2 separate regions of the Homo sapiens genome follow, and region 1 is linked to region 2. Evidence: fine-mapped expression QTL. Tissue or cell type: aorta. Region 2 holds a variant in brackets; the other region holds the start of a gene. All regions are shown on one strand. Distances are between the middles of the regions.

Region 1 (5,554 bases), 550 kb after region 2:
CTCAGGCAAGCAATCCACCTCTTCCTTGCCTCTGTAGAATGGGAGCAGTGATGGCCCCCACTGCACCCCGATGGCCCCCACTACACCCCCAATGGCCACTACTGCACCCTGGCCATGGGCACCTAAGTTGCTTCCTCAGCAGGGCCAGGGCTATGGGATGCCTGCTCCTCTGCCAGCCTCCTGCCTCTCCTGCCTATCCACCTCTTCCTCTCTCTCTGCGTGTGCTGGTGCTAGGTTCCCTGGGAGTCAGTCCTCAGCTCTCTCCTCTACACACTACCCCCGCAGGGACCCCCACTGTCGCCACAACCCAAGCATTCTCAGGTGGAATATCCACCCCGAACCTCTCGCCTCTGATGCAGACTGAAGGCCCGTGCCAAGTGCCCCAGACTGAATCCATTAGGTGGTGCACAGGGTGCAGGTTACACACTGAGTCTGCAGTCAGATGAGCTCTCCTGCACTTTTGTGAATGTGTCTGGGCCTCAGTTTCCTCATCTGCAAAATGGGGAGATGGGGAGGAAGCTCAGTCATAATGGTCCTGAAGCAAGGAGGCCCCCTATGCCTCCCAGCATGTGGAACAAGCTAAGTGCAGGCCCGGTAGGACCCAGGGCTGTCCCAGGACTGTCCCCGTGACCACTGTCCAGCTGGCTCCGTGGTCAGGGCATACTGTAAGTCATTGACAGCAGAGAGAAGCAACTGTTCACAGAAAGGAGAGCGCTCCGGGGACAAGGGCTGCCAGGGCGCTTCCCAAAAGTCAGAGAGCCAGGATTCGAACCACACCAGCAGAGGGTCGGGCAGGTCCAGCACGGGCCAGGCACAGAATGGGCGCGGGGCTGCTGCTGAGACGGTGCCCTTGGAGGACACAGCCTGGGCTGTGGGAGGCGAGACCACCAAAGGTCTTCCCAGTCGGGTCGAGTGGCCTGGATGAGGCAGGCGGTCAAGGATGTCTGTGGATGGTGGGACGGGGAATAGCAAGCCCGAAAACCAACTGGGAAGATCCCGGACCCGGGAGAGCAGGAGAGTAGCCACGGCCCAGTCCCGACACCAGGCGCGCAGATCACGAAGAGGTGGGCGTCCGCAGGCCTCGGCGACCGGCTGCGGGTCCCCGGGGCGCAAGGATGCGGGTCCCACGCGGACGGGCCCGTCTATTCAGCCGCAAGGGAAAGCCTCCCTCTCAGGAATGCGCACTCGGGTCCGAAATGTAAACTTGCAACCCGACTCCTTCCATCCCCCCTCGGAAGCGACAAAGAGCCGCGGAGCAAAAACAGGCCCCCGCTCTCCCGGAAGGGTCTCCAGGCCTGGGGCCACTGGGGCGCTCGGCCGCTCGCCTTCTCTCCAAGGTCCCACACGGTCCCCAGCGAGACCGCCGAGGGGCAAGGGGCGCTGGCCACCCAGGTCGCGCCCCCTCCTCCCCGCCGGGAAAGGGCGGAATTATCCGCTGGGACCGCGCCGACCTGAGCCCGCCCACCCAGAGCCCGGACGCGGGACGCAAGTTCATCCAAGAAGCAGAAGCCGCCGCGAGACAGTGACCCCTGGGCTTCCCTGACGGGCCCAGCCGCGCAGATAGCAGCGGCCGGGGCCGGGGAGTTGGGGGTAGCCCGGGGGGCTCCACGGCAGAGGTCCAGAGGAGCGGGCGTCGGAGGGGACACCCTAGGGAGGGACGCGCCCGCCCCCATTCCCACCCCACCCCCTCGTGTTCCCGACCCGCATCCCCGGGGCTGGAGCTGACGCCGCCGGGGGCGCGGGGCGGCCGGGGTCGCCGGGCATTGCGAGCGGGGCGGCGGCGCGGGCGCGGGCGGAAGCGCCTCTCCCCGGCCCGGCGGCCGCTCGGGGCGGCGGCAACAGGCGCCCGGCACACCCGCCCCGCCGGAGCCTGGGCTTGGGGCGAGAGGCGCGGCGGCGGCGGCGCTGCTCACCCACGCCGTACTTCTCCTCGCGCTTGGTGGGCACCCAGCGCGTCATGGCGCCGCCGGAGCCGCCGCGGGTCGGGCAGGAAACTCCGCGTCTAGGCCGCCATTTTCCATTCCTTTCGAGCCGCGACAGGATGGGGAGGAAAAAGTTTGCGGCGGAGGCGGCGTCATGTGGGACGGGGCGGGCGGAGCGTCGCGGGCCGGATGGGAAAGGCCGGGAGCGCCGGCGGGAGGCGGGACGGCCGCGGGCTCTGCGCCCGCCCTCGGCGCGGACCCTGGGCCCCGACCCCGCGGTCGCCGGGGCTCCCCTTCCTCTGTCCCAGTGCGCCCAGCCCCGCGCTCCGCACCCGGGCACCCCCGCGGGGTTCTCCTGAGTTCCTGGAGCTCCCGGGGCTGGCGCTCACGCCGTGAGAGGGGTGCGCCCTTAGGGGGGCGGGACGGACGGGGGGTTTCTACGGGAGGTAGGAAACGGGCGGCTTGCAAGGCGCGGGCTTAGGCCGGAGCCTGGTGGTGCGAGGTCCCCAGCTCGGATTTCTCCCTGGTGGAGAGTCCCGGAGCAGAACAAACCAGCAGAGGCTCTGGAAAGGGTCCTCCTGAGCACGTGGCTCATTCATTCATTCGACAAACGTTACCTGAGCGCCTGCCCACTCATTGCCCGAGTGTGCTGGGAGCGCCGCACCAACTGCCTGGTAGGTGGGAGAAGGGACACGTCAGGTAACAAACAGCACAGGTAAGTGCCGGCCACTCAAATGGGGTGGAAAGAGGTGGCACAGCGCTGCCGAGGGAGTGCGTTCCAGACAGGTGACCTCTTGCTTGGGTGCTGAATGAGTGGAGTTTTCCAGAGAGACCAAGAGGAAGCAGCCGCAGAAACCTCAGCCCAGCTGGGCTTGCAGAAGCTAATGCTAGAATAGTTGTGGGACTCAGGATCTGCTGAAGTCGGGGGAAGAGAGAAGTAGGGAAAGGAAAGCCCAGGCCACGCGTGGGGCTCAGGAACGGCATCCTCGCCCGAGGTGGGAGTTCTTCTCAGGCCCTGGTGTTTCCCATGACAGTAAAAGGTGGGGGCTTCAGATTTCTCCAAGGGAAAAGTTAAAGCAACACACACCTATTTATTTTTACTGTAATTTCAGAAAAGAGAGGTTAAAACCAAGACATGGACAAAGCCTCCGAATGAAGGCAGCCCTTTAAATGGAATAAATTTGGTTTCATGGCACATTAATGGGGTGTCTTCTCTCCGAAGACACAGAGACAACTACAGTAGGTCTGGGGGCCGTCAGGGATTGGAGGAACGAAGGTAAGAAAAGGAAGAAGGTAAGAAAAAGAGGTCCCTACCTCTGTGAGGTAGGGACAGTGCTGAACAGCAGGGCTGGGAGAGCCCACAGGGAGGTGGCCAGGATGGCCACAGGGCCTGGGGAGGACCAGGTGGGGCACCATCCTGCGGTAGAGAATGCCCGTCACCTGCCCTAGGGGCCACCCAGAATGCAGATTAAATAAGTATTTGGGAATGGCACAGGAGCTTTTCCATTTTCGTGGGTTAGAGGAAAGCTGCTGCGTTCAAGAGGATAACGTGGGACCTGAGCATTCTGGTAAGTCAACCCCACATTCATGGAAAGCCACGGGCTCTGTTTTACTGATAAGGAACTGAAGTCCCACAGAGGAAGTGGCCAGGCTCACTCACACACAGCATGCACTTGAAGCTTTCTGTGGAAATCAGAAACCTCCGGGGCTCAGGCGCTGTAGTGGTGGCCTGGTGACTCTGACCCCTTGAAGGAGAAGCATCTGTGAAGGTGCTGTCCAGGACAAGTAGGGTGCTCTACGGTAAAGGACATGGTGGCCTGACCTGCTCCAGAGCAGGGAGGCCTCCCTTGAGGAAATAAGATAAACCCAGACTTTAAGGATAAGCAGAAACCAGCTAGGTGAACTGGAGTGGGAACAGCACGTGAAAAGGCCCTGGTTTAGGAAGGAGCACCACTCCTTCAGAGCACAGAAAGGCCAGGATGGCCGAAGCATAGGGAACAACAGGAAAGTGACATAAATTGAGGCTGCAGAGGTAGAAGAAGGGCCTTATTGGTCGTGCTAGGAATTTGGAATTCTGCAAAGAAGCCTGGGAAACAGATTTTGGTGACACTCGCCTTCTCTTTAATGTGCAGTTTCAGTTCTGTTGGTGTGATTCTGCATTGGAGATGGCGTGCTGTAACGAATGGCCAGGAGCTTAAGAGTCATGCAGACTTGGGAGGCCTGGCCTTGCCACGCCCAGCTGCATGGCCATCCTCCTCCTGTTTCTGGCCGTTCTGTTTCTAAACCTTGGGGTTCTGATATTCCTACATGTAAACTAGGGGCTGTAATAGGAATCTCACAGGTGAGTCTTAGGATTATAAGAGGAGACATGACTGCATGTGTAAGACATCATAATGATGTGCTTCCTCATCTGACCCTACCTCCAGGTTCTTTGATAACCTCATGGTTCCCATTTTCTAGAACAGTTGCCACTTGCACTCAGATAAAGGTGACTCACTGAATGCATAAATAAGTGTAGTGCCGGATTTGCATACTTTTGGTAGACTGTCATATAATAAATTTATAAATCAGAATTTTAAAACTCCAGGTGGGGCCGGGCACAGTGGCCCATGCTTGTAATCCCAGCCAGCATTTTGGGAGGCTGAGGCAGGCAGATCACTTGAGGTCAGGAGCTCGAGGTCAGCCTGGCCAACCAGGGTTTTAGTAGAAACCCTGTCTGTACTAAAAATACAAAAATTAGCTGGGCGTGGGTGCGCATACCTGTAGTCCCAGCTACTCAGGAGGCTGAGGCAGGAGAATTGTTTGAACCCAGGAGGTGGAGATTGCAGTGAAGCAAGATCGCACCGCTGCACTCCTGCCTGGGTGACAGAGTGAGACTCCATCTCAAAAACAAACAAAACAAAACTCCAGGTGGACCACGGGCCAGGTGGTTGTAGCTTCAGTCCCTTGATTGCAACATGTGCCCAAGTTTGGCTGAGATGTACCTGTAGCCACGGTCCTTGAAGCCCTGAGAAGATTTGTCAGCATCCCCACGGTGCTCCAGCAGTGCTCTCATCTTGTGGCTCTAAATCGAGTCCATGGCCCTCTCTCACTGTCCTATGGTTGCATAAGCTCAGAACTGGCTTCGTCTCCAATTCCAGGAGCCCTGGAGGTTGTGGCCTGTTGACATTTTTACCTCCTGAGTCAATGTGGCTGGGCCACAGGTCTCAGTTGCCCTCCCAGGCATCTTGCAGGACTTGGATCTGTGCCAAGCTTGTGGGTGTGAACAAGCCCAAGAATGCTGAGGCTCTCAGTTGCTCAGTGCTGCCCATCACTGGGATTTCAGAGTAGTGACCCCCCTCCTCCAAGATACAACAGAATCTTGCTTTGGGGCCATGAAGAACACAATCAATATTACAGTTTTAAATCTTGAAAAGTACAGTTTTAATTTTTTTAATTCCAAAAAATTTCACACATGTGCACTGCAAATTCAGGAGGTAAATTCAGCAAAATCTTGCCTGGTGGAGGTACCAGAAGGCACAGTGAGTCAATGGGGCATGTTTCTCAGTCGGTGGGGAGAGATGAGAATGGAACAGGGATGTGGAGATTTTATGCAGGAAAAGGGGCCTGACCACAGATTTTTTGCCCTTTGA
Region 2 (5,554 bases):
TTATAAAAATAAATACTTTTATTTTATTTTTATAGATGGAGATAGAGACGGAGACAGATTTCTCGCTCTTGTCGCCCAGGCTGGAGTGCAATGGTGCAATCTCAGCTACTGCAACCTCTGCCTCCCAGGTTCAAACAATTCTCCTGCCTCAGCCTACCGGATGGCAGGCGCTTGCCACCATGCCCGGCCAATTTTTGTATTTTTAGTAGAGATGGGGTTTCACCGTGTTGGCCAGGCTGGTCTTGAACTCCTGACCTCAGCTGATCCGCCCGCCTCAGCCTCCCAAAGTGCTGGGATTACAGGTGTGAGCCACTGCGCCCGGCCTATTCTTTCCGTTTCTGGTGGCCGCTTATACAATGTGAGGCACAGACTGCCCAAAAACAACCTGTCCCCAGGCTGGGCTCTCCGTGGTCGCCTACATGGGTGTGCCCATTCGATGATTTCTAGGGTTGTGGATAATATTCAGTTTCTCACACACTCGACAGAAGATGAATATTTATCTTGGTGCAACAGTTGAAACAGTAAAGATTCTTGAAGAAAAAAATCCCACATTCACACAGGCCTACAGTTTCTCAGGGGTGGACTGGATATTTACAAGCATGAATACGCTGGGGACAGCACCTGAGTAGGAGGAAGAGCCTCCCAGCTTCCTGGGCTCCACAGCAGCCTCCTTCTAGGCCGGGTTAGATGGGCAGAGGGCACATCCTTATGGCTTCCACACGTCTGGCAGGAGCAGAGGTGAGAGCCCCGTCCATTGAGAAGAGAACCCCCTGCCTTCCTTGTTTCTTGCCACCCCAGATCCAGCCAGATAGGCCCTGGAGAAAGCTCTCCATGTCCAGACCTCTACAGCTAAATCACACACCCATTAACCAAAGCCCTTTCTTAAATTAGCAGCTGAAAAGAGGCCCACATGATCTGCAGCCCCACAGCCCTCTGGCTTTGGTGATGGGGAAGCACTCAGCTGGTCTCTGCTTAGCTCCTGTCTATCAGGACATGCAGCCATGCACGGGACACGGGCACTTCCCATCTGGGCTCCAGATCAGACACAATTAACAGAGAGGATTAAAAACAATGTTGGAGGAAGAGGTGCATATATAAATGTGTGTCACCAAGCACTTTAACATAGCAGAACAGAAACAGCAGCGTCTGTATTTTACAATCAAGGATGAAAACATAATTGGTCAGACACTGTGAGTCTTTTAAAATAACATTTTATTTTTCGTTGTCAATGATTAACTTTTAAGTCTATTAGAAGAGTATCATGATTATAGTGAATAAAAAAATATAGATGAGAGAATACAAATATTAGGTTATACAAAGTTAGTTTTTTAAAAATCATTGTCCACCAAAATTTTCAGGACTTTGGAGTTCTCAAAAAAAAAATGTGTGTGTGTGTGTGTGTGTGTTTTAACACTTCCAGCAGTTAAAAATTAAGAACACATATGGATAATCATTGGTGGACGCCTATTATAATAAACGGAAGGACCACAAAAATTAAAACAAGTTCTAAGAACCATCATATATACAAATTTCTGTACAGAATGAGGACAAAAACAATTCACCCAATTAAAACCAGCTCTTGTGGTACACATACTCTTTTTCAGAAAAGAACGAACACTTATCTTCCTGTATTCATTTGTTTTTCCATTTGATTCAGTATTCTTAATGCTGTTTCCACCCCATAAATTAGTAACTGTTCAATAGCTGAGAAATATCCTATTTTCAATTATGCAGGGGAAATCAGGAGCTTCCCTGGAGGGGTTGAACTTCATGGTCTGATGTAGGTTGGAGACACACCTCAACCAACGAAGTCACACCACCGGCTGGAACAAGGAGGGGCTGGATACAACATCCCATGACAGTGAGGAGGATTCTTATACATCATCACTACACAGCTTCCTAAGAGTGATGGCCTAGCCTCTCCTACTTGGCTGAGCTCAGAGCAATTGAGCTCTTTGCAAATGCAAGTCATTTGGCACAAAAAGAAAGAATGTTTGGGCAAGACTCAGACTCTCTCAGAGCCAGACACACTCAGAGGCCCCCAACTCTGATAACTACGATAGCACATCCCGGACCCATATCTACCTCCCAGACCCACCTTGCTCCATGACGCTAAAGGCCACTCACTCCATGGTGAGAACTGAACTCCTTTGAAGAAAAAGCAGTCGCACGAAATGTTAACATCACAGGCCCAATGAGGTAAACAGCAGACTCAGGGGACACAGAAGGAGAGGGCATGGAGATGGGGAGGGGCAGCACACTCTTTCCAGAGAGGCTTGCGACGTCACTGCACGATCCC[G/A]GAGTCCACCGATGCCTGCTTGCGAGTTGTCTTTGGAGGGGGAGGAGGCGGAGTTTTGCTGGGCAGTGGAGGTGGCAGATGCTAAAAAACATGAGGATGGGGAAGATGTCACATAACTGATGTCCTGACAGAAAAGACACCGTCTCCAGGTGGGGTCTGACCTGGCACAGCCACTCAGCCGGAACCATCCTCCCCACATGAGTTGGGCTCCATCCTGTCCGACTTGGGGCTGGCAGGTCTACTAGGCTCAAGACTGGGCTGCTATGGGCCTGGGCCTTTCTGACGCCTCTGAGCACTCTCCCACCGTCTGCACAGCCCCTGAGAGGTACCATTGCCCTTTGCGTGGCCTTTTTAAATCTAGATGCTATCGACCAAGTTATCCATCTATTGTCTAAGGGATAAATAAGTCCTTAGAGGCACTCTCCAGGGGTGAGATGAGAGACCTTCTTTTGCTTTCTGAGCTTCGGGCAAAGGTTAGCAAGCTTCTCCTGGAAAGGGCTAGACAGTACATATTTCCAGCTTTTTGGCAGGCCACACGGTCTCTGTTGCAGCCACTCAATGCCACTGGTGTGGCCGAAAAGCGGTCATTGACAGTGTGTACAGAAAGGGGTGTGGCTGTGTTCCAAGAAAACTATTCACAGAAACAGGTGGCTGGCTGGCTGGCTTCAGCTCATGGGCATATATTACTTTAGATTCCAAAAAAGAACATTAATTTCCAATGTGAAGATAATAGCAAACCCCTTGCTGATGGACCTGGCTGGAGTGTTATGACTGAGGGCAGCTGCACCCTATTGCTTTTGGGACCCTCATGCCCATCACACACACCTGATGTGCAGGAGACTCTCTAGAAATATGGGTCAATCGAATAGAAAAATGGATGAATGAGTGAATAAATGAATGAGTGAATAAACGAGTCAGTGGATAAATGAAGAAATGAACAGGTAAGTAAACAAATGAATGAAGAAGTGAACAGACCAGGGTAAGTGGGAGCATGCCACAGGCAGAAGAACCAGAATGAAATCACAGAACACTATCGTCTAACTTAAGGGTAAGAGTGGATTTTTATCAGCCTCTCAGTGTGGGTTTGCATTTAGCTGAATGTGAGAAAAGAGGTTTTCAAGGATAGACAGTGACGCAGTAGTCTCTCACTCATCGCCCAGATTTCCTCCTGATTCACAGACTAGTAAATACAAAAATGACCTAATGCTTAACACAGAGAGGAGAATAAATGTGGAAAAGTAAAGCTGATATAAAGATGTCCTATGAGTGTATGACCTTATATTAAGGAAGGTAAAACAACAATTAAGTCTTTTTAAGGTTGGTTAGAACCGTTAAAAGAGACATCTATTTTGAGGTCTGATGAAACTGTTTGTTTACATGTGAAAGCCACACTCACTGATAGGCCAATGAGGAGCAGGTAAGGACCACACTAACACAGCCTGATACCAACACAGCGCTGCAAATGACCTCTATGCCAAGTATGAGCATGTCAAAAGTTTATCACCATTAAGCAAAATGATTAATGGTGATAAACTCAGTAAGCTCAGATTACTGACAGGAAGAGCCATTTGGAAAGAAATGACAGCTTAGTGGCAACAACTAAAGACAGAGTTGCCTACAAGCCTGAGGCTGATCAATGAGAGTGACAGGAGGATATTGATCACACCCCCATCATGGCAGATGGATGATCATTATCCTAGAACAGCTCTCAGGGCCTGTGCAAAGGGAGGCACCCCAGGAAATGCAACCGCTTCTGCCTAATGATGACATACTAACCACCAGCGTGTCACCTGAGCATGCACTCAGGCTGCAAGTAAATTAAACAAGAAACAAAGACCAAAGACACCTGGGTCATTAATCTAATTGAATTCACACGCCCTTTATCAATTGAGAGAGAGCTAATCCATGTTATCCCTTACTTAATCAACTGTATGTGGCATCAGTAACCCACAATGGTGTATCCAAGAAATTGAGACAATAAAATGTTACCCCGGAGTTGATTTGTAACAAGAAGAGGAATTGGCTGTAATTCTAAGTTTAGAATTTTCAGTTTACTAGTGTAGGGAGACTAGGGGGAACATTCCTGCCTTTGCAATAAAATAGAGAGAAGAGAATGTGACCAATTAACGAAGCTGTTAGGGAAACAATACTCCAAGCAACCCAATATTCTTGTTAGACCCCCCCGAATCTCCTTTTACTCTCACAAGTAGTTAGAAATGGCCGGGGAAGGTCCGGCTTCCATTTCTGTGGTGCAACAAACCATTCCAGCCTGCCAGAAAGCCCTCTTCACAGGGGAACCTGGTGCCTCCTCCAGGACCGGTTCCCCATCGAGGCGTCTCTAGGGAGAGGGAGCCTGTTTAAATGGCACTTGGGTCTCAGAAGAGCAATCTGCCTCTTTGATATTAAAGATGACTGCTTGTTTAGTTTTCTGATACAAAGGGAATGATGAAATACGTATGCTGTACACAAACACCCTCTCTCTTCCACTCCTCTCATAAGGGATGTAATGACCTTGTGGAACACTCCGTCAACGAGTCTCCATTAAAAAAAAAGAAAAAGAAATGGCACGTGGGATTTATATTGTTTATTAAAGAAAAATAAAAAAAAAAACCATGTCTCACCATTATGAAAAAAACAGAGCCACCCAACAATCTCATGTTTTCAATGTTCTACAGGAGTTTTGCGGCCATATAATTACTTCACTAAGGCTGGATAGCAAAAAAAATACGGCCAGCTGTCCACATATGAAGAGGGATATTTTACCCTTCAGACACCACTGATTTAATTGTCAAAGGCTGTGAATAACATGGCCTGGGGAGGCCTGAGCCTAGAAGCAGAAGTTCCCGCCGTGGCTGAGTCAATCGCTCGCCCGCCTCCATCCCACTCATGCTGCCCTCCACACATGCCTGGGCCCGACATGAGGATGGGGCTGGGACCCGCAGGGATGAGTGACGCCTGACAGCATCCTTGAGAACCAGGAGAGGAACGGGGTGGATCTCAAAAGAATGTTTCTAGAACTGTCAACTGGTAACTGAGGTGCTTGTTTAAATGGCTTTTCATGACTTTGACTAATATTTGTACGGGCAGGCAGGCCCAGGGGCTGTTTGGCACAAGGCACTTTGGGTGGCATGAATGACTAAAACAGCTGCTGGGGGGTACCAGCTTCAGGGACTCACGCTGAAGAGGGGTTCCAGCAGGTTGCTTAGGCTTACAAAGGCCAGTGCTGCTGGAGGAAGCCAGGTCAGCACCCCCGAA

Which allele goes with the higher level. Alleles are on the strand shown, and positions count from the first base shown. SD is a standard deviation of normalised expression in the study named.
As copies of A replace G in region 2, the expression in aorta of the gene that starts at base 2,049 in region 1 goes down (small effect, 0.25 SD a copy in GTEx).

The links. PIP is the estimated chance that this variant, and not a neighbour inherited with it, causes the effect.
Region 1: DOCK1 starts here. The variant in region 2 is fine-mapped to the expression of DOCK1 in aorta (GTEx, PIP 0.98). The same link has a PIP of 0.9 or more in esophagus muscle.

The regions. Positions count from the first base shown.
Region 1 is chr10:126,901,923-126,907,476 of GRCh38, reverse strand. It overlaps DOCK1 (dedicator of cytokinesis 1), which reads right to left and starts at 2,049. Exons shown (of 52, transcript NM_001290223.2): 1 at 1,914-2,049. The coding sequence starts at 1,959. It overlaps LOC105378550 (a long non-coding RNA gene), which reads left to right and starts at 2,099. Exons shown (of 2, transcript XR_946449.3): 1 at 2,099-2,917; 2 at 3,035-5,554. It overlaps LOC124900289 (a long non-coding RNA gene), which reads right to left and starts at 1,746. Exons shown (of 2, transcript XR_007062336.1): 1 at 1-1,746. RefSeq lists an enhancer at 280-1,028.
Region 2 is chr10:127,448,158-127,453,711 of GRCh38, reverse strand. It overlaps DOCK1 (dedicator of cytokinesis 1), which reads right to left. Exons shown (of 52, transcript NM_001290223.2): 52 at 1,196-2,380. The coding sequence ends at 2,285. Among named protein-coding and RNA genes, the nearest start is that of NPS, 98 kb to the left of the region's middle. The variant G/A (reference allele first, on the strand shown) is at 2,300.